Regions from separate parts of the Homo sapiens genome. Here regions 1, 2 and 4 are each reported to be linked to region 3. Evidence: microRNA targets listed by miRTarBase, many of them from high-throughput screens and not tested one by one. Region 3 holds a microRNA gene; each other region holds the end of a gene's coding sequence.

Region 1 (7,202 bases), not on the chromosome of region 3:
CAAAATTAGCCTGGCGTGGTGGTGGTGCATACCTGTAAGGAGAATCGCTTGGGCGGGGTGGGGAGGGGCGGAGGTTGCCGTGAGCCGAGATCGCACCATTGCACTCCAGCCTGGGCAACAACAGCGGAATTACGTCTCAAAAAAAAAAAAGAACTGAGGCACAATTCATATAAGTAGAATGTTTATTTGGGGCAAGTTTGAGGATTGCAACCCAGAGCACAGATTCAAAATGCCCTGAGTAGCAGCAGTTGCAAGTGGGTTTTTAGAGGAAAAAATGGCAGTTCCTAAATTGTCTACCAAGAATTTACATTAAAATAACACAAGCGATTGATTGGCTATACATCATTCTTTTCATGACAAATTCCAGGAACGCGGACATAATGGGTGAAGCAGCTAGTCAGGAATAAAATGCCAGGCATTAAGTGGGGAGGTGTCTGAAGTCCCATACTGCTGTCTCTCTGGGCCCGGCAAATTTTGCACATCTCAAATAATTAACAATGCTCCGAGCCATTCTTCTTTTCTCATATAGAACAAGACTCACGAAAACCGACAGCAGCAGCTTTAGGAGGCCCAATACAGTCCGTTTTCCGTACGAAATGAGTTTAATTTATTGTGACTGCTCCAAAAGAAAAGTGCGGTTCATCTAATTTTCTTCCGAAAAGGAAGTTAAGGACCAGAGTTTCTTTGACCCCCTTCCCCCCACCCACCTCCTCCATTTTCCAGCTCTAGAGAATGGCTGGGGCAGCGCGCGACGTTGTAGCTACGGTTACGACCCGCCCCGTTCCTTCTACGAGAACCACATCAGCGTAGTATCACTTTTCCCCTCCGAAGCACAGTCACCCGTCAGCAGCCTCGAGGGCTGACGTGTCCTTATCAAGCCGGCGCGCCCCGCGATTCTATAGCCGCCATGCCTGAGACCTTTTTCCTGAAGGGAGAAGCCTGCTCTCGAACTAAGGCCGGCGAGGGCCATAGGTCTCGCCTTCCCTTTCCTAAGAAGGCCTAGTCCTACCCAGGATTCTGAGCAAGGGAGGCTCCTATTGGAGCCGCTACAGCCTCGTTCTTAGCTTACCGAGAAACAGCGCCCGACACCTGGCCCTTCGCAGCTCTCGCCTTTCGCAGCTCTCGCCTAACAGGAAAGGGAAGAAACAGGCGGAAGTGGGAACTGCACCTGAGCGACAGTACTGCAAACCAATAGGCAGCCGGCCACGGCGGTCAGGCGCCTTCGGTCGCGTCTGGAAAGCACCAACCAACGGTCTAAGGGGCGGGCCGGAGGGGTGTGGGCCGGAGGGCCGCGGTGTGCCGCGGGGCAGTTGCGGGTTGTCATAACGGTCCCCGCCGGAGTGAGGCGAGGCCGCGTCGCTCAGTTCTGGCCGTCTAGGGCCCCTGTAAGGATGAGAGCGCAGAGGACGCAGGGCCGCTGGAGGCGCAGGTAACGAAGCTAGGGTGCGGTTGGGACCGCGGCTGAGCTTTTTCCGGGACCCGTGGTGCTGAATGGAGAGGACGGAGACGAAGCCGAGCCGCGGCTCCTAGCGGCGGCGCCGATGCTCGAGCTGTAGCTGCCAGGCGAGGATGTGTGGAGCGCAGGCGGCGCGGGGTAAATGAGAGGTCTCGGGCCCCAGGACCCCCGGGGCCCGGGATGAGTTAGCGAGGGCAGCCGCGGGGGCCAGTTCCGACCGTGACAGGCCAAGGCGACGGCCGCCGCCCGCCCGCCCCTTCCGTGCAGAAGCAGCTGCTCCTTTCCGCGCCCGCCCGCCTGCGCTCCCGGCCCTGGAGACCATGAGGTTCCGCATCTACAAACGGAAGGTGCTAATCCTGACGCTCGTGGTGGCCGCCTGCGGCTTCGTCCTCTGGAGCAGCAATGGGCGACAAAGGAAGAACGAGGCCCTCGCCCCACCGTTGCTGGACGCCGAACCCGCGCGGGGTGCCGGCGGCCGCGGTGGGGACCACCCCTCTGTGGCTGTGGGCATCCGCAGGGTCTCCAACGTGTCGGCGGCTTCCCTGGTCCCGGCGGTCCCCCAGCCCGAGGCGGACAACCTGACGCTGCGGTACCGGTCCCTGGTGTACCAGCTGAACTTTGATCAGACCCTGAGGAATGTAGATAAGGCTGGCACCTGGGCCCCCCGGGAGCTGGTGCTGGTGGTCCAGGTGCATAACCGGCCCGAATACCTCAGACTGCTGCTGGACTCACTTCGAAAAGCCCAGGGAATTGACAACGTCCTCGTCATCTTTAGCCATGACTTCTGGTCGACCGAGATCAATCAGCTGATCGCCGGGGTGAATTTCTGTCCGGTTCTGCAGGTGTTCTTTCCTTTCAGCATTCAGTTGTACCCTAACGAGTTTCCAGGTAGTGACCCTAGAGATTGTCCCAGAGACCTGCCGAAGAATGCCGCTTTGAAATTGGGGTGCATCAATGCTGAGTATCCCGACTCCTTCGGCCATTATAGAGAGGCCAAATTCTCCCAGACCAAACATCACTGGTGGTGGAAGCTGCATTTTGTGTGGGAAAGAGTGAAAATTCTTCGAGATTATGCTGGCCTTATACTTTTCCTAGAAGAGGATCACTACTTAGCCCCAGACTTTTACCATGTCTTCAAAAAGATGTGGAAACTGAAGCAGCAAGAGTGCCCTGAATGTGATGTTCTCTCCCTGGGGACCTATAGTGCCAGTCGCAGTTTCTATGGCATGGCTGACAAGGTAGATGTGAAAACTTGGAAATCCACAGAGCACAATATGGGTCTAGCCTTGACCCGGAATGCCTATCAGAAGCTGATCGAGTGCACAGACACTTTCTGTACTTATGATGATTATAACTGGGACTGGACTCTTCAATACTTGACTGTATCTTGTCTTCCAAAATTCTGGAAAGTGCTGGTTCCTCAAATTCCTAGGATCTTTCATGCTGGAGACTGTGGTATGCATCACAAGAAAACCTGTAGACCATCCACTCAGAGTGCCCAAATTGAGTCACTCTTAAATAATAACAAACAATACATGTTTCCAGAAACTCTAACTATCAGTGAAAAGTTTACTGTGGTAGCCATTTCCCCACCTAGAAAAAATGGAGGGTGGGGAGATATTAGGGACCATGAACTCTGTAAAAGTTATAGAAGACTGCAGTGAAAATCACAGTTACAAAAGCGACAGTCTTCTATTTTTGATATTTGTCCAAACAGGACATACAATTGAATAAAAGAGTTTAGGAACTGGTTTCTGCTTTAATACAAAAACAAAATCTTGTAAAAGGTGTCCAAATACATAGTAATCTTTTCCAGTTATGTCTGATTAAGATTTAAAACTGAAGGTTTCATTTTGGGAGTAGGGTTTTAAAGCTCAATCTGTTATCTGCTAAAATTGATTATTGTTGATATGAGAGAAGAGGGGAAATTTTATTTAAATTGCATTTATTAATCTTTTTATCTGAAACTTTGTACACTTTTCCACTTTCAAAACCTATTTTAAGTACAGCAAAATTTATTTAAAACTGTCATAGCAGTAAAAAGTATTACGATGAAATTGTTAGGGTATTAATGGAACAAACCCAGTTTCACTCTCTTGACACACTTATTAGGAAGGGATTGCTTCACTGGTTTAATAATTTAAAAGTTATGTTTGTTAAACACCCTGTCAGAACAGTCATTTTCAGTATTAGATTCCTGTACTATTGTGTTTTGAGTGTGTTTTGGAACCTTCATAGAACACACTTTCTTTTGGAATGTATTTGATTGATAAGAAAGTTTAAACATTGTTTTCACCTCAATGTAGAAATACAGTGGTTTTGTTTTTTTTTTTCTTTTAGTGCTGACAAAATAAAATACTCATTTTTGCATAAAAAGGTTCCTAATCCTTTTGCAGAATAAGTTTTGTTTACTCTTTATACCAAAATTCAGTGAAGGCATTCTACAAGTTTTGAGTTAGCATTACATTTTAATATTTACTATTGCTACATTGTATAATTGAGTTTGAAATAAAACCCAGCTTATGACAATGCATTCCCTGTGCAAGAAACTGTTTGGCTTTCAAATTACCCAGGCATTGAAAATGAATGATAAAAAGTTGCTGTGTAAGGGAAATACAGCCTAAATTGTTTTTGAAAGCCAGAAATGATACAAAGTTCAGTCATGCCAAAGTGAAATACTTTCTAGTGCCAGCTTTAACTTAAATCATACGTTTTAAAAGGACAGATACAGAAAATTATAGGAAACAGGCTTAAATTTTGCTCCATATTTAATGTAGACGTTTATAGAAGTTTCCCTTAATTTGTAATTGCATTCAACCGAGAATTTCTCATAAAAGACTAATTTCTGTGTAAAGATATTACGGGCTGGGTGTGGTGGCTCATGTCTGTAATCCCAGCACTCTGGGAGGTTGAGGCAGGCAGATTGCTTGAACTCAAGAGTTTGAGACCAGCCTGGGCAACATGGCGAAAACCCATCTCTACTAAAAATACAAAAAATTAGCCGGGTGTAGTGGTGCATCTGTAGTCCCAGCTACTTGAGAGGCTGAGGTGGGAGGATCCTTTGAGTCTCGAGGCAGAGGTTGCAGTGAGCCTAGAGCGTGCCACTGCACGCCAGCCTGAGCAACAGAGCAAGGCTCCATCTAAAGAAAAAAAAAAAAAGTTACTTAAACTTGTAACTATTAAATGGCAGTCTCAAAATTATTGCATCAATTTAAGATTCATAGTAGTTTAAGAGCACATATGCTTATCTAAGGTGAGGCAAATAGTTCTCTTGCTTTACGAGCTACCTTTAGACTTACCCACGGCCCAGTCTGGTGCAAGATTTTGCCTGGGGGTTATAAATAAGGGTGAATCAGGAGGCTTTGTACCTATTTCTGGTACTCTGACCTGACATCACTAGTTCAAAGAACTAAAAAATTAGGTTATTTCCAGGACTGAGCTAAGAAGGCCAGAGTGTGAAGTAGTAGCTGTTTTTGAAACAAATAGATCAGCTCCTGGCTTTGGGGTTAGTGATTAAATCAACAAATATTTCCCTTTCTGTATTTCCTTCCTTTCATTTTCTTTGGCTGCCCTAAAATTTTTTGTAAGAAAAAAACCTGTTAGGATCTTCTCTTTGCCTCACATTTTAGGTGTTATAAAGGAAATTGATTATGCAGGAGGCTGAGATGAGAGGATCACTTGAGCCTAAGAGTTTGAATCCAGTCTGGACAACATAGCAAGACCCATCTCTTAAAAAAAAAGAAAGTGATTAGGAAACACTGGCTTTTTTTTGTTTTTCTGTGTAATAATGTAATGAAGGCAATTTTCCTATCAGAGCAAATTGCCAGATTTTAAAAATTCCAGTTTTACTCTTAAATTTCTATAAAACCACAAGATGTTTTAATATTTCAATAACTTCTAAGAAATACTTCAAAATTGAATTTTGAAAATCATTACTAAATAACTAAATCTATTATATATACTTTATGTAACAAAAATATATATAGTTTGTGTGACAAAATATAGAGCTGATGAAAAGTACTACATTTTATCTGGTGAATTTGTATCGTAATTGTTTAGATTAATATTGGTTAGTAAAGTTCTTTCCCCTCTAAGCTCTATTTCAAGCTTAAATATGTCCTACTTAGTGAGACTGAGAAACAGTTTTGAAATTCTACCCCCCACACATGTACTTATAATTCCAGTTAAATGCATTCTTGAGAATTACTTTGTGTGACAAACACAATTAGTGAATATTTTTAAATTTTATTAATGACAAAGCAAAATTTAACACAGAAGTATATATACATAGGTTGTATTAAAACTAAATGTTTTAACTCTCAAATGTTTTAACTCTCAAATAGAAAACATACACATCTATTACAGGAATCACAAAACTTATCTCCATAAGGAAACTTTAAACTCCAGAGGCAAAAAAAAAAAAATTATCTCCAATTTCCCCCATGAGAATCAAAATTGCAATTTTTTAAAAAAAATTGCAAATTTTAATTTTATACTTTAATACCTTTAGTTTTAAGACAACAGTTAACAGAATCAATTTTAGATACAGGTATTTTTTAACCTTAATATTTAAAAGTCCAAAATTATATAGAATTAATCCAAATCATATAGCAAAGAATTCTGAAAACTGAATGCACAATTGGTCACATGATCTTTAATGACCTGCACACTACCATCCTGCATATTGGTTTCTTTTATGCTGTCGAATCCAGGTATATTGTGAACCGTAGTTTTGTTCAGTAATGAAGATAGGTGATCTCCATCTGTTTCTTTCTCTTCAGTTATTACTGACTCGTTTAAGTTATCTTTTTCCTCATTTGAACAAGTAGCACTTTTTTCTTTTATAAATTCAGATTGCATTTTTGACTCAGGTTGCTGAGATTTTCCAAGTATCATTTGAGAAACATCAAGAGACTCTTGTTGAAAGCATGTAACTAAACCAAAGCTATCTATTTGTAGTGCTTTAACTGCTATAGATGAATCAGAATCAGTTGTAGGGGTGTTACAATGTTCTATATATTCCTTTTCAGTTAGATGACTTTCTTCATTTACTCTTTCCTCCTTTCCTTGTAGCTGATCAGAGTTACTACATTCTTGCAACTGTGTCAAGAGAAACAACAAATTAATAATTATTTTAAATAATACAAAATTAAATTGTACTACCCTCTGGAAATAAAATTTTTAACAGTTGTGAGGTAATAGCCCTTACAGACCTGCAGGTATACATCCAGGCTTTCCTGTCAAAATTCATCCTCCAGGCTGGGCACAGTGGCTCATGCCTGTAATCCCAGCACTTTGGGATGCCAAGGCAGGCAGATCACTTGAGGTCAGGAGTTCGAGACCAGCTTGGCCAACATGGCGAAACCCCATCTCTACTAAAAACACAAAAATTAGCCGGGTGTGGTGGAGCACACCTGATAATCCCCTCTACTTGAGAGGCTGAGGCAGAAGAATCACTTGAACCCGGGAGGTGGAGGTTGCACTGGGCCGAGATAGTGCCACTGTACTCCAGCCTGGGTGACAGGGTAAGACCCTGTCAAAAAAAGAAAAAGACAGGCAGCATTTGAAGGATGACTTTTTTTGTTTTGAGACGGAGTCTTGCTCTGTCGCCCAGGCTGGCACAATCTCAGCTGACTACAACCTCTGCCTCCAGGTTCAAACAATTCTGCCTCAGCCTCCCAAGTAGAGGGGATTACAGGCATGCACCACCACGCCCGGCTAATTTTTGTATTTTTAGTAGACACAG
Region 2 (7,000 bases), not on the chromosome of region 3:
CTGGGAGGTTGAGGCTGCAGTGAGCCATGATTGCAGCACTACACTCCAGCCTCCAGACAGAGCAAGATCCTGTCAAAGAAAAGAAAGAAAAAAGAAAAGAAAAGGAAGGAAGGGAGGGAAAGAAAGGAAAGAAAGAGAAAGAGAAAGAAAAAGAGAAAAAAAGGAAAGAAATTGCATGTGTGTACATGCAAGCAAATTTCCCATACCCCGTTAGAATATGAGGAAGCAAACAGATGGAAAGAATCAATAACGGGGCAGGGCGCAGTGGCTCACCCCTGTAACCCCAGCACTTTGGGAGGCCAAGACGGGCGGATCACCTGAGGTCAGGAGTTTGAGACCAGCCTGGCCAACATGGCAAAACCCCATCTCTACTAAAAATATAAAAATTAGCTAGGCATGGTGGTGCATGCCTGTAATCCTAACTACTTGGGAGGCTGAGGTTGGAGAATTGTTTGAATCGGGGAGGTGGAGGTTGCAGTGAGCCGAGATCTTGCCACTGCACTCCAGCCTGAGCAACAAAGTGAGACTCCGTCTCAAAAAATAAATAAGAAAAAATGAATGAGACATTCTTCTTTTATTAAAATAAAACCCATCCACCACCCCAAGGTTATTCCAGAAGGAAACTCTCCACCAATAGTGGTGGCACTAGACATATACTGAGAGACCCCCAAGAGGGAAGTGAAGCCATGGGGGCATCTGGGGCTACATGGTCTATCTCGCTACACAAGGAGGCCCTTTACAAGGCTAGCTGCCATTTTCTACCAAGACAGAAGGACAGGAACCTTCCAAACAGGGCAGCCTGCAGGCCCTGCACCTTCAGGCCCCATTCTCAGACACCTGTACAACCCCTTAAGCCAGACGGACTCACAGCTGTCTCTGGAAAGTTCTTCGTTACCTGACTCTTTAGACACAGGGTTGGCTGGAGGGGCCTCTCCCTCATCTTGTACATCTTATGAAGCCCCTTACCACCCACTGTGTTGCTGTCCCACTCAGCTGAAGGGGCTGGCCAGTCCCGCATAAACCCTCCAGCTCTGAGATCAGCCAATCTTCCCTGGGCACTGCTCTCTCCCCCAGCAAAAAAGCCAAGAATTTTCCCCAAAGCTTATGGTGAGGAACCTGTGTGTGTGTGTGTGGTGTGTGTGTGTGTGTGTGTGTGTGTTTGAGATGGAGTCTCACTCTGTCAGGCTGGAGTCCAGTGGCATGATCTCGGCTCACTGCAACCTCTGCCTCCCGGGTTCAAGTGATTCTCCTGCCTCAGCCTCCCGAGTAGCTGGGACTACAGGCACCTGCCACCATGCCTGGTTAATTTTTGTATTTTTAGTAGAGACGGGGTTTCACCATGTTGGCCAGAATGGTCTCGATCTCCTGACCTTGTGATCCACCCACCTCGGCCTCCCAAAGTGCTGGGATAATAGGCGTGAGCCACCGCACCCGGCCAGAACTGATCTTAATTCTCAAACCAGTAACCCTAATGAAGCGTCTTCGTTTCAGGTGGGCTCATTCAAAACGACATTTTCAGGCTTGGTGCAGTGGCTCAAGCCTGTAATCCCAACCCTTTGGGAAGGGAGGCAGAAGGATTGCCTGAAGCCAGTAGTTTGAGACCAGCCTGGGCAACATGGTGAGACTGTCTCTACCCACCCCCACAAAAAAAACATTTTCTCTTCTCCACAAACCTCCTGCCTCCCATTAAAATGTCACTCCCCCCAAAAAATGCAGAGGAAGAGGTAAGATTGCAGGCTATTTGAAAACAGGGGCATGAAGTTTGTCAGTTCCCTTCTGTCTCCCCATAGCATCTGTGTTCCATTAGTGTAGTGGCTGAGAGCGTGGATATTTCAGGCAAGATGCCAGCTGAAGATTCTCTAGTCATCTTGGGAAAGCCGCCCTGCCCCAGATGCACCACCTCTTCCTGTGTCCCAGGGTCCTCTCCTTGCGGCCCTTCACATCCCATGGCTTCTCGTGTGCGGGCCCCTCTTCGCCTGTGCAGTTGATGCCACCTTCCAGCTGCCACGTGACAGGTGGGCAGAGACTGGGGCTCCCGCATTCCCAACTCCAGCACCTGGCTGAGACACTGGGCCCTGGGATTGACTGTGACCGCCCTCTTCCCCTTTGGCAGGTCCTGTCTCCCACTTTCAACACCCTCACTTAAGGCCAGGCAGAACCCTTCCTACTGTCACCAGTCATTAAAATAAGGTTGCATCCCTCCCTTCCCTTCTGAAAATCCTTCCTGGGCTCCTTCTGCTGTTAGTGCCTTAAATGAGCACCCCTCACCTTTCTAACCTCGGCTCTTACCACCTCCTGGCCACCAGTGTGCTTTTGCTCTTGCCATTCTCTCAGCAGGAGTGTCCCTATCCCAGTTCACTCCCACATCAAGTGTGGCTCAAGCTGCGTCCTCCAGGAAGCCTTTCATTATCACTCAGGTCAGAACTGGCTCCCTTCTGGGCACAGGACTTTTCCGAGCCGGCCGCCCACTTCACTCTGCCTTTCTGTGGACAAGTCCATCTCCTGAACTAAGGACATAAAATCCTTGCAGACAGGGTCCTGTCCGTCACTGTATATTTCATGGTGCCTAATGGTGCTTTGTCTGAATGGACATGAAATGAGAACACACTCCCAGCTTCCAAGAAAGATGTGTATTCTCCCTAACAACAACAAAAGAGACCTAAATGGGCTGCTCCCTGAAGAGAGCCCTCAGCTCTTTTACCGTGATGCACACTCGGGGCTGGGTGTAGGCTGTGTGATCAAATGTATGAAGGAAGAAGGAACGGAGAGAACGTGGGCAATCAAGGCCTGGCACTGCCCTACAGGAGGCTTACAGGTCACACTCCCAGAACTGTCTCTATCCCCATGCCTCTCCTAGTAAGATTCATTACCTATGGTTTCAAAGAAAGTGCAGTTTCTAGGGAGTGAAGGAACACGTGAAATACAGAAAATAAAGACAGAAAAACACACAAATTATTAAATAAAATTTAAACAATAGAGGGAAAAAAAGTGTAGTTTGTTCTGCAAGCCACAGCCCAAAGAAGTCTATTTCCTCCCACAGGATGGCTAGAGTTTAGGAGCCACGTTCTCCTCTATAGCTCACCAGAGGATGCAGCCTGAAGAGCTCAGGGTTTGAAGGTTGGGCCTTGGGCGGGAGTCAGCTACTATTTCTAGCTGTTCTAGAAAGACCTAGAAACTTCCTGTGTGAAAACAGGATTAGGAAGCTCTGGGGGTGAAAATGCCATGCACGGAGCTGGCCCATGCCAAGTCCCTTCTAACTATTTTAAATTACATCTTTGGCCAGGCACGGTGGTTCATGCCTATAATCCCAGCACTTTGGGAGGCCAAGGTGGGTGGATAACCTGAGGTTAGGAGTTCCAGACCAGCCTGGCCAACATGGTGAAACCCTGTCTCTACTAAAAATACAAAAAAATTATCTGGGCATAGTGGCGCATGCCTGTAATCCCAGCTACTCAGGAGGCTGAGGCAGGATAATCGCTTGAACCCAGGAGGCAGAGGTTGCAGTGAGCTGAGATCATGCCACGTTACACTCCAGCCCGGGTGACAGAGCGAGACTCTTGTCTCAAAAACAAGAAAAAGAAAAAAAAATACAGCCTCATCAACATCTCCTGCTTCTCTGAGACAAAGGGAACAAACCAAATCAGGAAAATCGTGACAGAAAAATGACAGGCAGCCATTGTCATTTCCATTCTTATTCGTGGTTTCTGGTTTTTTTGGTTTTGTTTTCCCTTTTAATTTTTTTCTAGAAAAAAAAACACAACCCGGGGAATTTATATGACAAACTATCAGTGTCAGGATGGCAGAGGGAAAGAGAAAGAAGAGGAAGGCCAAAGACATGGGGAGTGAATAAAAAGTGGGTTCCGGATCGTGCGGAACAGTCCACAGGGTCATTTACAGGTCCTCAGGAGATGACCAGTCCCTTTGGCATGCAGGTCCAGTGCCTGGTCTTCTGGTCTGCCTGCTCAGACACCCAAGGGCAGAGAGAGCTGGCCACAAGTAAACCTGCCAATGACAAACTCAGGACTTAACAGAAAGACTTAGTTCAGTTCCTTGGCTTTGTGCTCAGGCATCACATAGCAGGCAGCCTGCAGCCTTTCTTGCCTGAGAGAAGAGTCCAGAAGAGCAGGAGAGTCACCTTTGAACACACTCTGGCATCACAGCAGTGAACTGCAAGCAGCCACTGGCTCGTGTGCAGATGTGGCCCTCACCACCCATGCAGGCATCTGTCCGGACATCCCCAGTCAATCTGGCCAAAGGATGGGACATGACAGTCCCTTTCTAGCCACAGCTTCATAGTGTTGTCCATTCTCCAGTCTTGCTCAAACTATCTATCACCTTAAAGGTTGGAAGAGATTGGAATCCATTTCCTTTTCAGCTCAGCAGGGGACACTGATTCCCAAGAAGCAAGTAACTTAACAAGGACAGGTTGGCCATCTGGATCTACACTGAAGGTCTTTCAAGTTTCATCCACTTTATGCCCAGATCTCAGGGCAGAAAATTCAGCCAGACCCAGAGCAAACAAGGTGACCAGAGTGATGGCTGAGCAAGAAAGTCCCAGCAGCACACTGCAAGACCAGAGTACATTCAAGAGGGGAGAGGGCACGTGGCAAGCTGGAGTCCCGAGTCAGAGTCTAGGGCAGCACTGGGTCTGAAGGACACAGCCCGGCCTGCTGGGCTGACAGTGTGGGTCTGATGCCTCACATGATGTGGCCCCACTGGTTGTATTCCTATGTGGAGGGTGGTGGGTTCCTGCCCTGTTGTGGCCCCTGTTCCTAAACTGAGGCCAGGTTCCATCTCAGTGCTGCAGTCCTGAGGAGCACCACGCTGGCCCGCCAGCCAGGCCACAGTCCTCAGCCCCTCTGGGTTCCACGAGAAGGCCCCAGGGAGTCACCGTCACTGAGAGGGAAGGGGCCAGGGAAGGGAGGCTGCATTCTACTGGGAGAGACTCGGGGAGGGACTACCATGGGCTTGGAAGGAGCTACAGCCCCAAATATTGCAGAGCCAAAAGGAATGGGATACATGTCTAAAAAGTGACAACAGTCTTGTCCCTATTTTAAAAACAGAATATTGTTGCTGTTGCCTGGTTTCATTTTTTTCCTTTTAAAACCACTCATATTTAAAAGGTGAAGGGCTGGGAGATGTAGTCCCCTTCACTCTGGTCCTTGATAGGCACCAGGGGGCCTCAGTCTCACGCTGGCTCCTGCTCTCCTTGCCTGGGCTCCAGCCACATGAAGCAAGGGCAGAGAGGGTTGCAACTGCTCTGCCTTCCCAACAGCGATTCCCTCTCCCCATAAAACCAGGGCACACGTGAGGAGAAGTCCAAAGAGTAAAGTGCACAGAACTCCCCGGAGCAGGTGGCCTGGGGGCGGGTCACTCCGAGAAGGAAGGGGTCTGGGGGGCGTCAGCCCAGAGCTACAGCTGTGGAGCAAACACTGATCCCTGTGAAGTGAGCCTCCAGGGCACAGTCCCCTTTCCCTTGGGCCCTTTGACACTTGTTTTTGGGACTGTCCGCTCTCAGCAGCTCTCCAAGGAAAGTCTCGGTCCCAAAGATATCGCCCATGCTGGAGGAAACTTGGATGACCTTCCCTGGCTGGTAATGACTCGTGAATGTGAAGGGGGCAGGATGTGGCAGGAGGGAAAGAGTACATTATAGAAAACCAGTGGACCTCCGGTTCTGAGAGCAGGGATACTTGGATGACCCTAAAGGCAGAGTCTCTCCTGGGGAAGGTTTGGAGAAGATGGTCAGGATCCTACCAGTGAGGCCTGCTGGGGAAAGGAGCTCCTCTGGGTGCGAGAGGAGCTGCAGAGTTGAGGGAGGGGCTGCCGAGGAAGAGAGCCCAGGGCTGGCATTAGGGTGTGTAAGCAGGGGGTGGCTGGAACTGGTTGATGACCTCATATTCCGCCGGGTAGGGCTCGTTCTCTTCCATCTCTGAGAGCAGCTCCAGCGCCTGCTCCTCTTCCTCTGTGGGGTAGTGGCGCAGGAGGTTGGCTGCCGTGGCCAGGATTGAGGCTCCACCAGCTCCTGCCACCAGGTAGAAGCTAACGGCGAAGGTGACATAGACCTGGGATCCATGGTACTTCTTATGCTGCTGCTGCTGGGCCAAGATGAGTTCAGAAGCCCAATAAGAAAAGCCAATGACGGTGGCACACTGCAGAACTAGGAGACAGAGGGACAGCACAGAAGGGGAATTAGTGAGCACTCCACAGCTAGGATGCTTGAGGACCCAATCACAGCCTCTCTACCCAAACCCCATTCTCAGAGAACCTGCCTGGCCCCAGACTCTGCAAGGAGGAGCTCTCTTGACCATGGGATTCCTGGCCTGAGGTTGGGGACAGCAGTCTGACCTGATCTAGGCCAGTCAGATTCCATCTGTCTTAAGGAGCAAATAGGGTCATGCAGCTTGGGAGCTGGAGTAGGCACACCACAATTCAAACCAGCACAGCAGTGCAGGCACGAGGGAGGACAGCAGCTACATACAAGAAAAGGCGGGTCTGTAGGGAAGCAGGAAGGTGGAGAGGAGAGAATCTGACCAGGAGCTCCAGGGGAGACACGGGAGACTGCCTGGTTCCTTCTTCACTCATGTCAGGTCTGAGCTTCAAATGCCATTTTAGAGAGCTGTGAGCTTCCTTGTGGAATTTCTAGCAACATTTCCCCTCTACAGCTGGGCTGAGTGGGTTTGTGATCCTGGCAAGTTAGCAGCTAGACTGGAGCAGGCTGCTGACACCCTGACACTCTGGGAAAGACTGGAGCTTGGCACATGAGCTCCTGGAAGGGTGCCTGCTCAGAGAAACCAGAGCCCCCACCGGCAACTCAGACAGGATGCCCCCACCCTGTAGCAGTTCCTCTCCCACTGTGAGCAGGCTCACGGCTTACCCGTTAGGATATGGGCGAAGGCATAGCGACGAGTGATCTTCAGAGCAGGATGCTTCGGCCCAAAGACATCCAGAAGGAAAGCGGAGAGACTACACAGGATGCCCAGGAAACAGAAGGCGGCGATGA
Region 3 (7,238 bases):
CAGTGGCAGAGCTGAGTAGTTGTGATGGAGACCATATGACCTGCAAGCTAAATATATGGACTATCAGGTCCTTTAAGAAAAAGTTTTCTGACCCATGATCTAGAGTCCAAAGAAAGAGGTCACAGATGTCTATGTGGGGAGGATATAGTTGAGAAGCAGGCTAAGAGAGTTACCTTGGAGGAATAAATTTTAAATCTATTCTTCATTCAAGTAGTATTTGCTAACACTTTATATCAAGCACTGGGACACTGGGTTCAGTAGTGAGAATAAAACAATAAACAGAACAGATAAAACCCCTGCTCTCCTGAATGTTACAGGAGGAGCAACAGGAAGAAACAGTCAAATAAATAATCAATTACTAGCAACATCTACACTTGTGTGCAAGAAAGAAAACATAAGTGACTAGAGGGTTTAGGGGAAGGGGGTTACCTGGGCAGGAACACTGAGAACCAAGAAAATACAGCAGCACAAAGACCAAGGAGGAAGTGTATTTCAAGAAGAAAGACATAATTGGGAATGTCAAATGCTGTGAAGCAGGATGAGGTCTAGAAATAGGCCACTGGATTTGGCATTTGGGAAATTAATTAGAGACTGCTGAGATCATTTTTGGCACAATGGTAGAAAACAAACAAATCTGCAGGGGGTTGAGAAGTCAAAAGGTGGTAAGACACTTAGGGCAATACATGTATGCTGATTTTTAAAGATGAATGGATGGGCCAGGCACAGTGTCTCATGCCTGTAATCTCAGCACTTTGGGAGGCCAAGGCAGGTGGATCACTTGAGGTCAGGAGTTCAAGACCACCCTGGCCAACATGGTAAACCCCATCTCTACTAAAAACACAAAAATTAGCTGGGCGTGGTGGTGCATGCCTGTAATCCCAACTATTCAGGAGGCTAAGGCAAGAGAATCACCTGAACCCAGGAGGTGGAGGTTGCAGTGAGCTGAGATCGCGTCACTGCACTCCAGCCTGGGCAACAGAGCAAGACTCCATCTCAAAAGAAATGAATAAATAAAAATAAAAATAAAGATGGATGGATAGATGCATTAATGGACAAATAGAAAGAAATATATATTCATATATATATATATATATTCATGAAGGGAACAATAGCCAAAATATAGAAGCTAGAGAAGAATTTAGGTTGGGAGAGAGGTTTCTTTGTTAACATCAGGGAGATGTGTATTTAAGAAATAAAAACGAAAGACCCACTAGAGAGCAAAAGATTAATGATGTAGGAAAGAAGAAGGAATTCGTGAAGCAAAGTATAAGAGAAAATGAGTAGGTGTGACCGACAGCCCAGGTGGTGGATATGAGAAAAATAGCCAGTATTTATTGAACACTTAACATGAATGAACCACTATACTGGGAGATGAAGATACTGACACAGATAAAGATACATAGTCTTTAATTCTTATATCAACCTTGCAAGGAGTTTAACATTACCAACATTTTACAGATGAGGAAACTGGAACTTGCAAGGTTAGTAACTAGCCCAAGGCTCACATTCAGTAAGTGGCTGAGCTAAAATTTCAAGCTAATATGATTTAGCTCCATAGCCCATGTACTTTCCATTTAATCAAGATGCCACACATTGGAAACTAGGTTCTTCCCTACCACAGGGAGAAAGAAGCAGAATAGGTGAAATGAGAGAGAGAGAGAGAGAGAGAGAGAGAGAGCAAGACTCTGAAGTAGGAAGCACTCTTTAAATTCAAGTCCAGGTCAGCCCCAGTTAATGCCTGAGTGTTCTCACAGTAAGATTTTACCCGACCTACCATTACACATTCAACTCTGGATCCACTCTGCATGTGTAGAGTAGATCCCCCCATCTTGCTACACAGCCCCACAGCCCCATCTTGCTCTGTGACCCAGGAGGCTGGCCCTTCTGAGAAGTGTAACCAGTTCTCTTGCCTTCTGGCTTCTGGTTGGGTCCTGCCAAGGGAGGCACTGGCTGGATACAGGAGGGCAAGAGGAGAATTGGGACAGGGGCTTGTCCCTCAGCTTCTCCCTTGCTACTTTCCTGTGGATTGACTGCATCTCTGCACCCAAGGCCACAGCTCAGGTCAGGTGACCTCTCTTGCCTCATTTATCCTTTGCTCCATTTATCCTTTGCTGATATCCCTTAACTTTACCCACACCTTTAAAGAGAGTCCCTTTCTTAAACGCCCCCCATTACCCTATCCGAGTGTGCCATCTGCATCCTGCCAAGTCCTGACAAGCCACATGATCACCTATATTCCTGGATGCTTTTTCACAAACGCATAACATAGTCACCCACATTCATCCACTTTCCCACACACTTAAATATCACACTCCTATATGCAAATCAAGCAACTGCAAGGTCTTCAGAATGGAAACACTGAGGCAGTTTTCACAATATAAGAGAGTTCTAAACTGAACCTGAGAGTTCAATGCCAGTTTAAACCTCAGAGCCAAAATAATTTAAAAATCAATGATGCTTAATTATGGACCTTCGTGTTCTCAACTCCTCTGAAATCCCCTAAAAAAAACAAGTTCTGGATTTGACTGGCCTAGGTACAGAAGTGGGGAGAAGTGCACCAGATCTAAATCCACAGTTAGGCTCAGGTTCAAAGCTCTTCCCAGCGCTGGTCTTGAAAGGGAGGCCACCCAATCCTTCTGTTATGATTCACACTCTGTGATTAGGAACCTAATTTAAAATATTAATTTATTTTTCAAAAAGATAATGAATGAAATCAGTATCCTCAGAACTGCTGCTTCCTTGAACTCCCTTCCCCCCAATCCCCAGAAAAATCCCCTAGCTTTTCTACTGATATCATTCATTTATTCTGGGAAGATGAAACCACCTCAGTTTCACTTTTAATGTGTAGTTTCTTTCTCAGGCTCTGAGCTGCAGGAGTAGGCACTTGCTGGTCAGAGGAGGCCTCCTTTTCCCAGTATAGCACTTTCCACAGTGTGGGTAAACAGAGCAGTAGGTGCTGCCACTAACACTTACCCCACCCCAAGCCTCCGGTCCTAGCTGGCTGACTTCAGGCTAGTCGCCACCTCACTCTTGCTGTCTGAGCCCCTGTTTACTTCATTTGCAAGGTAATAGGTCTACAACAAATCAGTAGTTTGCAATTTTTTCAAGTATGGGATTAATTTTTATCATTTAAAAAAATAGCATAGTTCCAAGAGATGGTGACCACGTTGATGTATTTGTTCCCCAGGCAGCATTCAGTGCACACATGGCCTCTTAGAGCCTTTGCTGTAACTCTGCAGTCCTCCAGGAACCTTCAACCTATATATTAGAACCTCGACTCTGAATCCCTTCCAGTTCCAGCATGTTAATTTGCTTATATGCATGCCTAAGACCTGCCATTCATATAAAGACCGGGCATACAAGAATCTCAACCAGAGATGGGAAGGCCTTCCGGTGATTATCACAGCCATGCCTTTACCTCCAGAAGGCCTTTCCATCTCTGTCTAATAAGAGGAAGACAATGCTGGTAATTTGGGACCCAGCTCTCCTAACCAGGACTTGTCTCATGACGCAATAGGGAGAATTGGATTGCCATTAAGCACTTCCCTTTTCCTGGGAAACACACCAGATTTCAGGTTTTCTGCAGATGCCAAACAACCCACCCAGCAGCAGCCTCTTCCTAGAGCCCGGACTCTCAGGGCCATCGTCACCACCATCTGTTCTATCCTAAGACAAAGTTCTGGGGGCTCCTGAAGCATCTTATAGAGACAGACCCAAGAGCTGACCCAGGAAGAGTTGGAGAGGGAGTTGGCGGAGGAGTGAGGGAGACACTCCCAGAGCCCCTCAGAAATGAGCAAAGCTTGTGTATCTCACCTCTATTCAAGAATCCCCTACCTCTGATCAGGGGTTTCCATGGAAACCTTATGAGTTCTATCTATAGGAAGAGAAAAAAAACATGAAAAATAAGAAGCACCCTGAGGTATGTGTGAATTAGCTCCAAGGAAGGTACGTAGAGAAGAAGGGAGTGGGAGCTCATATGGGAAGAAAAAGAGGTGGTCATTATCCTGATACATAAAAAAACCAAACTGTCTCCAGTCCCAGAATGAGGAGGGAGATGGGGTGGACAGGCAGACATGAGGCTGTGGGGGTGCACTAGCATGTGTAAGCAACTACGTGGACAAAAGGGGACCAAAAATCACCATCTGAAAGGATCTCAGGCCAAGAGATCCAAAGGAGGAAGGACACAGGACAGGAGGCAGAGAGCAGAGCTGCTGGCCGTGTTGAAACGGCGGTGGGCAGCAGCCTCCTATTCTCTTTATCACCTAACGCCAACTACAAAGGGTCCATCCGTCTATCACCCATATTTGCAGGTTTGAACACCTCGAAACCCAAGCCTTAATGAAAGTCATAATAAAGTCCTAATAAAAGTCATAATAAAGTCTCTGGAGATGTCTAGTCTATTTTTGTCTTATAAAACTGCAACCTTTTGGGTCACTTGCAAGGAAGGACTCTGCTAAACTCTTTTTCCTCTAATCTTGATTTCAGATGAAGTTTTAATGAGGACTGAGTATCTGAGTTTTAAATGTCATACAACTTGCTTTTTAAAAATAGACCATGAGGATCAAAGACCTAAATGTAAGAGCTAAAACTATAAAACTCTCAGAAGCATTGGCATAAATCTTTGTAACCTTGGATTAGGCAGTGGTTTCTTAGCTATGACACCAAAAGGACAAGCAATAAAGGGTGAGTGAACTGGACGTCATCGAAATTAGAAGGTTTCGTGTTTCAAAGGATACCATCAATAAATGAAAAGACAACCTGATGAATTGGAGAAAAGTTTTGCAAATCATATATTTGACAAGAGACTTGTGTCTAGAATATATAAAGAACTATAACTCAATAACAAAATAATTTTTTTAAAGCTGGAGAAAGGACCTAAATAAACATTTCTCAAAAGAATAGATACAAATGGTCGATAAGTACATTTAAAAATACTGAACGTCATGAGCCATCAGGGAAATACAAATCAAAACCACAATAGATAGCACTTCATGGCCACTAGGATGGTTATAACATAAAAGACAGATGATAACAAGTGCTGACGAGGAGATGGAGAAGTTAGAACCCGCATATATATGCAATATACTTACACTGAATGTAAAATAGTGCAGTCCTTTGGAAAATAGTCTGGCGGTCACTCAAAGTGTTTAACATACAGTTACTATATGACCCAGTAATTTCACTTCCAGGTGTATATCCCAGAGAAATGAAAACATGTCCACACAAAAATGTGTGCACTAATATTCACAGGAGCATTACTCATAATAGCTGAAAAGTAAAAACAACCCAAATATCTATGAGCCGATGGTTGGATAAATAAAATGTGATATTAACCATACAATGAAATATTATTCGGTAATAAACAGGAATGAAGTGATGATAAATGCTAAAACATGGATGAACTTTGTAAACATTAAGTGAAAGAACACAGAAGGCCAGAATTAAAGCTAGAAGATAGAAGTTTGTTTTTTTTTTAAGATATCTCAACAAAAAGCAGTGTCTCTCTTCACAGCCTGAGCTTGCCCTACAATCCAATGGCCTGCCTTGTCAGGTAGGCATCATCCGTCAACGAAAGCATTCAAACTGAAAGTCTTCCTGGGATGTTGCAGATGCCATTTGAATAATTAGATGAGGTTGGACCACATGTCTTATTGGGTCCCGTTCAAATCAGAGAGACTGTGAATCTGTGGTTCTTTTCTTCTCTCCCTTCTAACCTATGCTTCCTGCTGCAGTAAGCGAGAATTTGGGAGACATTCCTAAGGTATAACTCATTATTTTTACCTCATTCCATCCCTCTAACTTTAACCCCTGATTTAACTTTAACTTCTTCCTTATCTCCATCTTCCCTTGTTCCTCTTTAGACTGACACTGTACAACTCCACATGCCCTGCCAACTCCCATCAAAACTGGGGTATGTAAGAAGCCTCAAAAAAGAAAAGAATAACAAGAGAAGACTGAACACAGGTGGCCTGTCACACCTGTTACATTTAGATGTTAAATCCTATTGCTCTTGTGCATGAGAAGACTCTAAGCAGAAAAATAATTTAAAAATTAATGAAAATAAAATAAATACTGTTGCTTGCTTGGTCTGGGATACATGCAGATGTTCACTGAACTGGCTGAACCAGATTCACATGAATTACCCTCAGAAGGGCCTACATATGCTGTAATCTTTCTGCATAACACTCAACCCTTGTAACATATTCAGTGGCTGTTTTCCCTGCTTCATTGGTTTTTCAAAGGCCGAACCATGACAGTTTTGGTCTCTGCTATATCCTTGGGGAGGCACTCAATAAATAGTAATCAAAGAATTTCTCCTACCATTTCCCCATACATTCCAGACTGCTTGAGATTATACTCATGAAAGTCCTGCTTAAAACTAAGCAAAAGACAACCTGATGAATTGGAGAGAAGTTTTGCAAATCATATATTTGATAAAAGCCTTAGACAGTGCACTGGACTTCAGAACTAGTAGGAATGTTAGAAAACACCTAGCACAACCCTTCCATTTGACAGACTGAGGGCCAGAGTCATGAAATATTCAGCTAGGGAGTAGCAGAGCTGGGAATTTAAACTAGTTGTTCTGGTTTCTGGGAGACAGATTGCCATAGGCAGTAAAAAAAATGCAGGCTTTGAAGTCAGATCAACCTGGGTGCCAATGCAGGTCTTCCTCTTACTAATTCCACGGTCTTGGTAAGTTAATCAATGTCTTCAAGCCTCAGCATCTTCAGAAGTAAGATAGCACCTTCGACTACCTCCCTGGTGCAGAGAAAACGCTTAATAAACAGTAGCTTTGATAACCATTACCAAGTCCAGTGTTCTGACCACTAGAACACATAGGTCCTTGGCTTTGTACCTGTGGACACAGAAATATACCTATGCTAACAGGGAAAAAAGGACAGAGTGTGCTGAGCACCTTTCCATACTCAGTCTAAAACACAAAGGAGCCACATAGAAGGTGGCAGAGCCACTGCCATACACACACATGACCACTTTTCAGCTGGAAGCGCATGGTGGTGGAAGGCGATCCATTTCATTTGAGTTTGAGATCTTTTGCAAGTCTTTTCTTTAGATGGCTAATCTTTCTCCTCAAGTTCCTAGTTCAGGGTCTTCCATTGGAAGAATAACAAATGGAGAGCCACTGGACCTTCTAAGTGTATATTATCTTCCAGCTCTTCTGAATGTTACTTGCAGGAAGAGGTCAGGGAGCACGTCTAGTTCAGAGATTTGTCCTCTTG
Region 4 (7,000 bases), not on the chromosome of region 3:
CTTGATGCCGCATGCCTGTAATCCCAGCTACTCGGGAGGCTGAGGCAGGAGAATCGCTTGAACCCAGGAGGCAGAGGTTGCGGTGAGCCGAGATCGGGCCACTGCACTCCAGTCTGGGTGACGGTGTGAAACACCATCTAAAAAAAAAAAAAAAAAAAAGAATAGGAAAGGTTGGAAAATAAAGCTGAGCAAATCTAAATAAAGGCAAAAAAGAAAAAAAAAAAAAAAAAAAAGAAAACCTGAGGATCAGACCAGCAGGTCTAATAGTCAAATAAAAGAGTACCAAGAAAGGTCAGAAAGAGGAGAAAAATTATCAATGAAATTTTCAAAAAACTTTCCCAGAGCTGAAAACACAAATTCCCAGACTGAAAACCCACTTAGCTGCCCAGCACGATGGGCAAAAAAAAAAAAAAAAAGACCCACACAAAGCACACAACTGTTATATTTCAGAATACTGGAACCAGGATCATGATAATAAACTAGAATGGCTACAACTTCCCTTCAGCTACAAGAGGTCAGAAGACCAAAAAGCAATTCCCTTGAATTCCTTAAACAAAATGACTTCCAAAGGTAATTCTATATCCAGCCAAACAATGTAAGGGTAGAATGATGAAATTTTCAAATATGCAAGGTCTAAGAACATTTACCTCTCTTGCACTTTTCTGGGGAAGATCCTGAGAACAAGATATACAAAACAAAGCAGTAACATAAAAAAGAGGAATACACGGGATACACAACAGATATCCCCAAAACAGCAAAGCAGTGGCTTGAGTCACTCCAGACAATGGTGAGAACCCAGAGTGAAGTTGTGCACTAGGTCTAAAGGGTAAGAGATCAGAGCCAGGCAAAGGACTACAGAAAAGATTTTAAAATGATGAGGCCGGGCACAATGGCTCACACCTAATCCCAGCACTTTGGGAGGCCAAGGTGTGCGGATCACTTGAGGCCAGGAGTTGGAGACCAGCCTGGCCAACACAGCGAAACCCCATCTCTACTAAAAATACAAAAATTAGCTAGGCATGGTAACACATGGCTGTAATCCCAGCCACTGGGGAGGCTGAGGCAGAAGAATCCCTTGAACCCGGGAGGCAGAGGTTGCAGTGGGCTGAGATTGTGCCACTGCACTCCAGCCTGGGCAACAAGAATAAGACTCTGTCTCAAAAAAAAAAAAAAAAAAAAAAAGAATCATTTGGGGATCTCATTAAACACATCTGAATTCTGGGCTGGGGCCAGAGATACTGCATTTTTCACAATCTTTCACCAGAGGCCAGTGCTGCTGGTCCTTCAACCATACTTTTAGTAGCAAATGTACTACACGGCTGAGCTGTGAACAGAATGTATAATGTAAACTCTGAATAGTGGTTAAATTATGAAATATATTGGTAGGCTAGGAAGATAGGAAATATGCAAGCATATGGTAGAGAAGAAAAACTAAATCCTCTTCTTCTACAAATGGAAGTTAATGCCTAAAACAGAAACACACTATTAAAACTAGCTGGCTTTTAAAATTATATATAATTCTGATAACAGATTCCTTAAGAAGTGAGTAGAGGATGCGAACTCAGTTCATAAATACGAAAAGCACTTCAACATCTACATAAATACTCAACTGTCTCATTAAGATTCCCTTTTTCAGCTAGGTGTGGTGCCATGTACCTCTAGTCCCAACCACTTGAGAGAATTGCTTGAGCCCAGGAGTATAAGAACAGCCTGAGTGAGATCTCATCTCTTAAAAAAATTTTTTTTGAGACGGAGTTTCACTCTGTCACCCAGGCTGGAGTGCAGTGGCACAATTTTGGCTCACTGCAACCTCCATTTCCCACGGTTCAAGTGATTCTCCTGCCTCAGCCTCCCGAGTAGCTGGGATTACAGGCGCCCACCACCACGCCTGGCTAGTTTTTGTTATTTTTAGTAGAGATAGGGTTTCACCATGTTGGCCAGGCTGGTCTCGAACTCCTGACTGCAAGTCATCTGCCCGCCTCAGCCTCCCAAAGTGCTGAGATTACAGGCATGAGCCACACCACACCTGGCCTCTAAAAAAAAATTTTTTTAATTACAAACTTTTATACTCAGGAGGCTGAGATGGGAGGATCACTTGAGGCTGGGAGGTTGAGGCTGCACTGAGCCGTGATTGTGCCACTGCACTTTAGCCTGGGTGAAAAAGAGAGACCTGTCTCAAAAAAACATTTTTTGGCCTGTTTTAAAAAGATTACAGTTTTCACTTAACAACTGGCAAAAAAAAAAAAAAAAAAAAAAAAAAATTCACTGATTGCACCAATTGCAATAATGTGAAGAAACAGCAATATATTGTTACAGCAATAGTTCTGAAATCTTAGTGTTTTATGTTGTTGCAACAGAACACCACAGACTGGGTATCTTAAAAAACGAATAGAAATTGGCTGGGCGTGGTGTATCATGAGGTCAGGAGTTCAAGACCAGCCTGGCCAACATGGTGAAACCCCATCTTTACTAAAAACTACATAAATTAGCTGGGTACAGTGGCAGGCACTTGTAATCCCAGCTACTCGGGAGGCTGAGGCAGGAGAATCACTTGAAACCAGGCGGCAGATATTGCAGTGAGCTGAGATCGCACCGCTGCACACCAGCCTGGGCAATGTGTATTTGGCTCATGATTAGGAGCTGGGAAATCCAAAAGCATGGCACCTGTATATGGCAAGGGTCTTTGATGCTGTGTGATCCCATGGTGGAAGGTGAGAGGACAAAGAGGGTGCGCTGAGGAGAGCAAAAGAAAAATTTGGCTGAACTCCATTTTATAACAAACCCACTCCTCAGATAGTAACATTAATCCATTCCTGAGGGCACAGCCCCCATGGCCCAATCACCTCCCAAAGGTTCCACCTCTCAATAACATCACAATGGCAATTAAATTTCAACATGCATTTTGGAGGGGACATCCAAAATATGGCACTGACAATCCTTATTGCCCCAAAAGTAAACCATTTCCAGATTTCAACCATCTTTCTGTGACAAATCTTTTCAGTTGGCTACCACAGTACGTTTTTTTTTTTGAGACAGGGTCCAGCTCTGCTGAGGTGAGTGGAATAGCATGATCACGGCTCACTGCAGCCTCACCTCCAGGGCTCAAGCAGTCCTCCCACCTCAGCCTCCCAAGTAGCTAAGACTATAGGCATGTGCCACCATGCCCAGCTAATTCTTTTTTTTGTAGAGACAGTCTCACTATGTTGCCCAGGTTGGTCCCGACTTCCTGGACTTCAGTGATCCTCCTGCCTCAGCCTCCCAATGTGCCGCGATTATAGGTGTGAGCCACTGTACCTGACCCAGTATGCATTCTCAACTACTTTCTTCCTTAGCTGCCTTGGCTGTCAGGACTGAAAAAGCTATGCAGTCATCCCTCATCTGTGGTTTCACTTCTGTGGTTTCAGTTACCTTGGTCCCAAAACAGGTGAGTATAGCACAATATTTTGAGAGAGACTGACAATTTCCACATACATTTTATTATAGTATATTATTATAATTGTTCTATTTTATTGTTAATCTGTTACTGTGTCCAATTTATAAACTTTATCATAGGTATGTATTAATCCATTCTCACACTGCTATGAAGAAATATCCAAAACTGATTAATTATAAAGGAAACAGGTTTAACTGACTCACAGTTCCGCATTGCTGGGAAGGCCTCAGGAAACTTACAATCATGGCAGAAGGCAAGGAGAAGCAGGCACCTTCACAGGGCAGCAAGATGGAGTGACTGCAAGCAGGGGAAACGCCAGGCACTTATAAAACCAACAGATCTCCTGAGAGTCACTCATTATCTCAAGAACAGCACAGGGGAAATTGCCCCCATGATCCAATTATCTCCACCTGGTCCCACCCTTAACACATAGGGATTTGGGGATTATAATTCAAGATGAGATTTTGGGTTGGGTAGCAGCCAAACCATATCAAGTATATATACATAGGCAAAAACATAGTATATATAGGGTTCAGTACTATCTGCTGTTTCAGGGATCCACTCTTGGAATGTATTCCCCAAGGATAAGGAGGACTGCTGTGTTCACTTTCTCAGCCTCCTTTGCAGCTAGAGATGGACCTGTCACAGTTCTCAACAATGAAACTAAGTGAAAGCCTGCTGGGAGGAATTTTGAGAAATCTCATGCCTATGGTCTCAGCTACTTGGGAGGCTAAGGTGGGAGAACTGCTTGCCAGAAGTGGCTGGCACAGCTACCTTTTCTTCCTGCCTTGCACTCATGTAAATATCAGCCCTTTTACAAGCAGGAACAATAATCATAAAGGTGTTAGAAATATGTCATGGACAGCAGAGCGGAAAAATACAAAAAAGGCATCACTGAGAGCTAAACCAACCACCACAGCAACCTCACTTGGATTTAACATATGAGGCAAAAATATCCTGCTTAAATCCTTCATTGTTTTGTTACACAGCAAACACATCCCCTTATTGTTTTGTTACACAGCCAAACACACCCACTTTCTCAAAGAAGGCTGCTCTGAATTATGTTTTACACATACTCCCCTCTCCCCAGGATTTATTTGTAAGTCAAATATATAAACTAAGTCTTATACTATTATGTTCACTATAAAACAGAAATTGTTAGAGTTAAAAAAAAAAAGTCAACAGGCCAGCTAGCTCATGCCTGTAATCCCAGCACTTTGGGAGGTTGAGGCAGGAGGATCACTTGAGCCTGGGAGTTTAAGACCCTGTCTCAATTCAAATAAATAAATACATATAAATCTCCACAACTCTAGGTTTGCTTATTTTACAATCAATAGGAATGTTTGACTGTGAGCAATAAAAATGTAAAGAAGGCCGGGCACGGTGGCTCATGCCTGTAATCCCAGCACTTTGGGAGGCTGAGGTGGGCAGATCACCTGAGGTCGGGAGTTCGAGACCAGCCTGACCAACATGGAAAAACCCTGTCTCTACTAAAAATACAAAATTAGCCGGGTGTGGTGGCACATGCCTGTAATCCCAGCTCCTAGGGAGGCTGAGGCAGGAGAATCTCTTGAACCTGGGATGCAGAGGTTGTGGTACGCCGATATCGTGCCATTGCACTCCAGCCTAGGCAACAAGAGTGAAACTCCATCTCAAAAACAAACAAACAAACAAACTTAAAAAAAATGGAATTTACTGAAAATATGAGATAGCTTGCAGAATTCAAGGAAGAGCTAAACCAGGCCTCAGGAAGAACAGGAATTGGGATAGCTCAAAATCACTACTTTCAGAAACCGCTCTGAAATTCTGGAGCACCAATCCAATTTCATTTGTTGAAGGAAAGTGTACCTCAAGGTGCTAAAGCACAGTTAATTTTACAACTCCCATGAAAATCATGTTCTTAAACCTACAAAATAAGCAAATTTAAAGCTTAAAATCCAGGACTTTCCATGTCAAAAAACAACTGAACGATTCGATTACAATAATATATTAAAATATCATCTACAGACTGGCTTTTTACAGACTCCCCTGTCCCCCACCCACAAAAGGACCTACCACAGTTTCTTCTAGTTTTAGCCTCACACTATGGAAACTTTCACTACATATTTTATTCTTAATTATCCCTCCTCTCCTAGCATTAGTATATAAGCAAAAGCTGCAAAAGTCAGTTTCAAATTTTATTTCATTAACTTAAAAGGTGGACAAAATGTTTATTTTAAATCTAATTGAAATTTATCTGAAACAACTTATTTCAAGTAACTTATTGTACAGTCCATTGTCCATTTAAAAATATTTTCTTCCAAAAAACTGCATTGAAAGACAAAAAAATTCTTTTATACGGCATATACGCGAGATGCAAACTTCTGATGTAAATTTGTTTCACTGTCAACTCCGATGATAAAGATGAGAGGCACAAGGGTTCACAGTTCAGTTAAATGATGCAAACAAAAAGCTTCTGTTTCCCTCCGATACAAATTAGAAGTCTCCATTCATGTCTCTTACAGTAGTACCACATACTTGATGCTGATACTAGGTTACTTCTTTTTCTTTCCTTTCCCTTTTTTACTTCCCTCTCCTTGTTGAAGACTTTGGTCAGCACCTCCTGTTTTTTGTGTCCTTGTTTTTAGTTTAGGTATCATTTCTGCTGCATACAACATTACTGACTTACCTAGGAACCAGAAGTTAGGCTTAGTGTATAATCTGAGAAATAAGACATAAAAAGTCATCAAATTGAATATCACAAAGTGTAAGAAACTATCACATCAAGAAAATGGAAAATAACTTTTTTAAAAAATCAAAAATCAAATGACTGAAGACACTGACTAGCTCAAGTCGGGGGAAATGTACTGAGAGTGAGAATAATGCTGAAAATATTTAAATGAATAAAATCAAAAGGCAAAACACTAAGTATGAAACAAAAATTTTGGTTTGGTCCTAGTAATCAGCTTGAAGATCTAAGGAGTATGTATCCAAATATACCTCAGGTAGAAACAGAGTCAGAATATCACTGTATCTTAAGACACTGAAATACAGGGTTTTCTCAGTCTTACAACAAAAAAACAGTATCATCAAGTTACAAGCGATCCGATGGGTAAGATCAGATGATCTACACTTACATGCATTCCTGCTCTGCACACCTACAACCAGCTACCTTCACCCCCAACAGACCAAGTTCCTCAGCTCTGCTTTCTTTTTACTATCTTACTTGGGTCTTACTGGAAATAGGAAGTGACATGTTCTCACCACAACTTCTACCCCTATTTTATCTACTAGTTAATTACAAGTTTTTGTTTGTTTTTGGTCTTTTGAGATATAATATAGGAAAATGTTAAGGAGAAAAAACATATCAGAATATGATGTCACTCCTTAGTCACAACCTGAAGCATCTAGCAATACCTACCAATCCTGATGGGTTTTAGTATATAAAAAACAATCTATTTTAGGCTGAGCCCAGTGGGTCATGTCTGTAATCTCAGCTCTTTGGGAGGCTGAGGCAGGAGGATCACTTGTGTCCACGAGTTTGAGACTGGCTTAGGAAACATAGCAAAACCCCATCTCTAGAAAAAA

Evidence for each region. The annotated mature microRNA hsa-miR-4493 reads AGAAGGCCUUUCCAUCUCUGU and lies in region 3 at 3,423-3,443, shown strand. An mRNA with a match to its seed (bases 2 to 7 or 8) in the 3' UTR can be bound and repressed. Matches are read on the target gene's strand: a 7mer-m8 pairs with bases 2 to 8, a 7mer-A1 pairs with bases 2 to 7 and ends in A, and an 8mer does both.
Region 1: miRTarBase lists DNAAF2 as a target of hsa-miR-4493. The part of its 3' UTR that is shown has no 7-base or 8-base seed match.
Region 2: miRTarBase lists TMEM127 as a target of hsa-miR-4493. Seed matches in the 3' UTR shown: 7mer-m8 at 4,873-4,879 and 7mer-m8 at 3,823-3,829.
Region 4: miRTarBase lists SRP19 as a target of hsa-miR-4493. Seed matches in the 3' UTR shown: 7mer-m8 at 4,803-4,809.

What each region holds. Positions count from the first base shown.
Region 1 is chr14:49,619,493-49,626,694 of GRCh38, forward strand. DNAAF2 (dynein axonemal assembly factor 2) reads right to left here. Exons shown (of 3, transcript NM_018139.3): 3 at 5,682-6,556. The coding sequence ends at 6,050. RPL36AL (ribosomal protein L36a like) reads right to left here and starts at 1,134. Exons shown (of 2, transcript NM_001001.5): 1 at 1,070-1,134. It overlaps MGAT2 (alpha-1,6-mannosyl-glycoprotein 2-beta-N-acetylglucosaminyltransferase), which reads left to right and starts at 1,307. Exons shown (of 1, transcript NM_002408.4): 1 at 1,307-3,989. The coding sequence starts at 1,777. The coding sequence ends at 3,120. RefSeq lists enhancers at 909-1,018, 1,407-1,957 and silencers at 1,179-1,388, 1,689-1,798.
Region 2 is chr2:96,247,959-96,254,958 of GRCh38, forward strand. TMEM127 (transmembrane protein 127) reads right to left here. Exons shown (of 4, transcript NM_017849.4): 3 at 6,875-7,000; 4 at 556-6,157. The coding sequence ends at 5,850. Among named protein-coding and RNA genes, the nearest start is that of TMEM127, 15 kb to the right of the region's middle.
Region 3 is chr11:123,377,646-123,384,883 of GRCh38, reverse strand. MIR4493 (microRNA 4493) reads left to right here and starts at 3,372; the gene lies at 3,372-3,444. It also overlaps a transcript of GRAMD1B not described here. RefSeq lists enhancers at 2,467-2,546, 2,707-2,786.
Region 4 is chr5:112,866,505-112,873,504 of GRCh38, reverse strand. It overlaps SRP19 (signal recognition particle 19), which reads right to left. Exons shown (of 5, transcript NM_003135.3): 5 at 3,717-6,101. The coding sequence ends at 5,968. Among named protein-coding and RNA genes, the nearest start is that of SRP19, 8.7 kb to the right of the region's middle.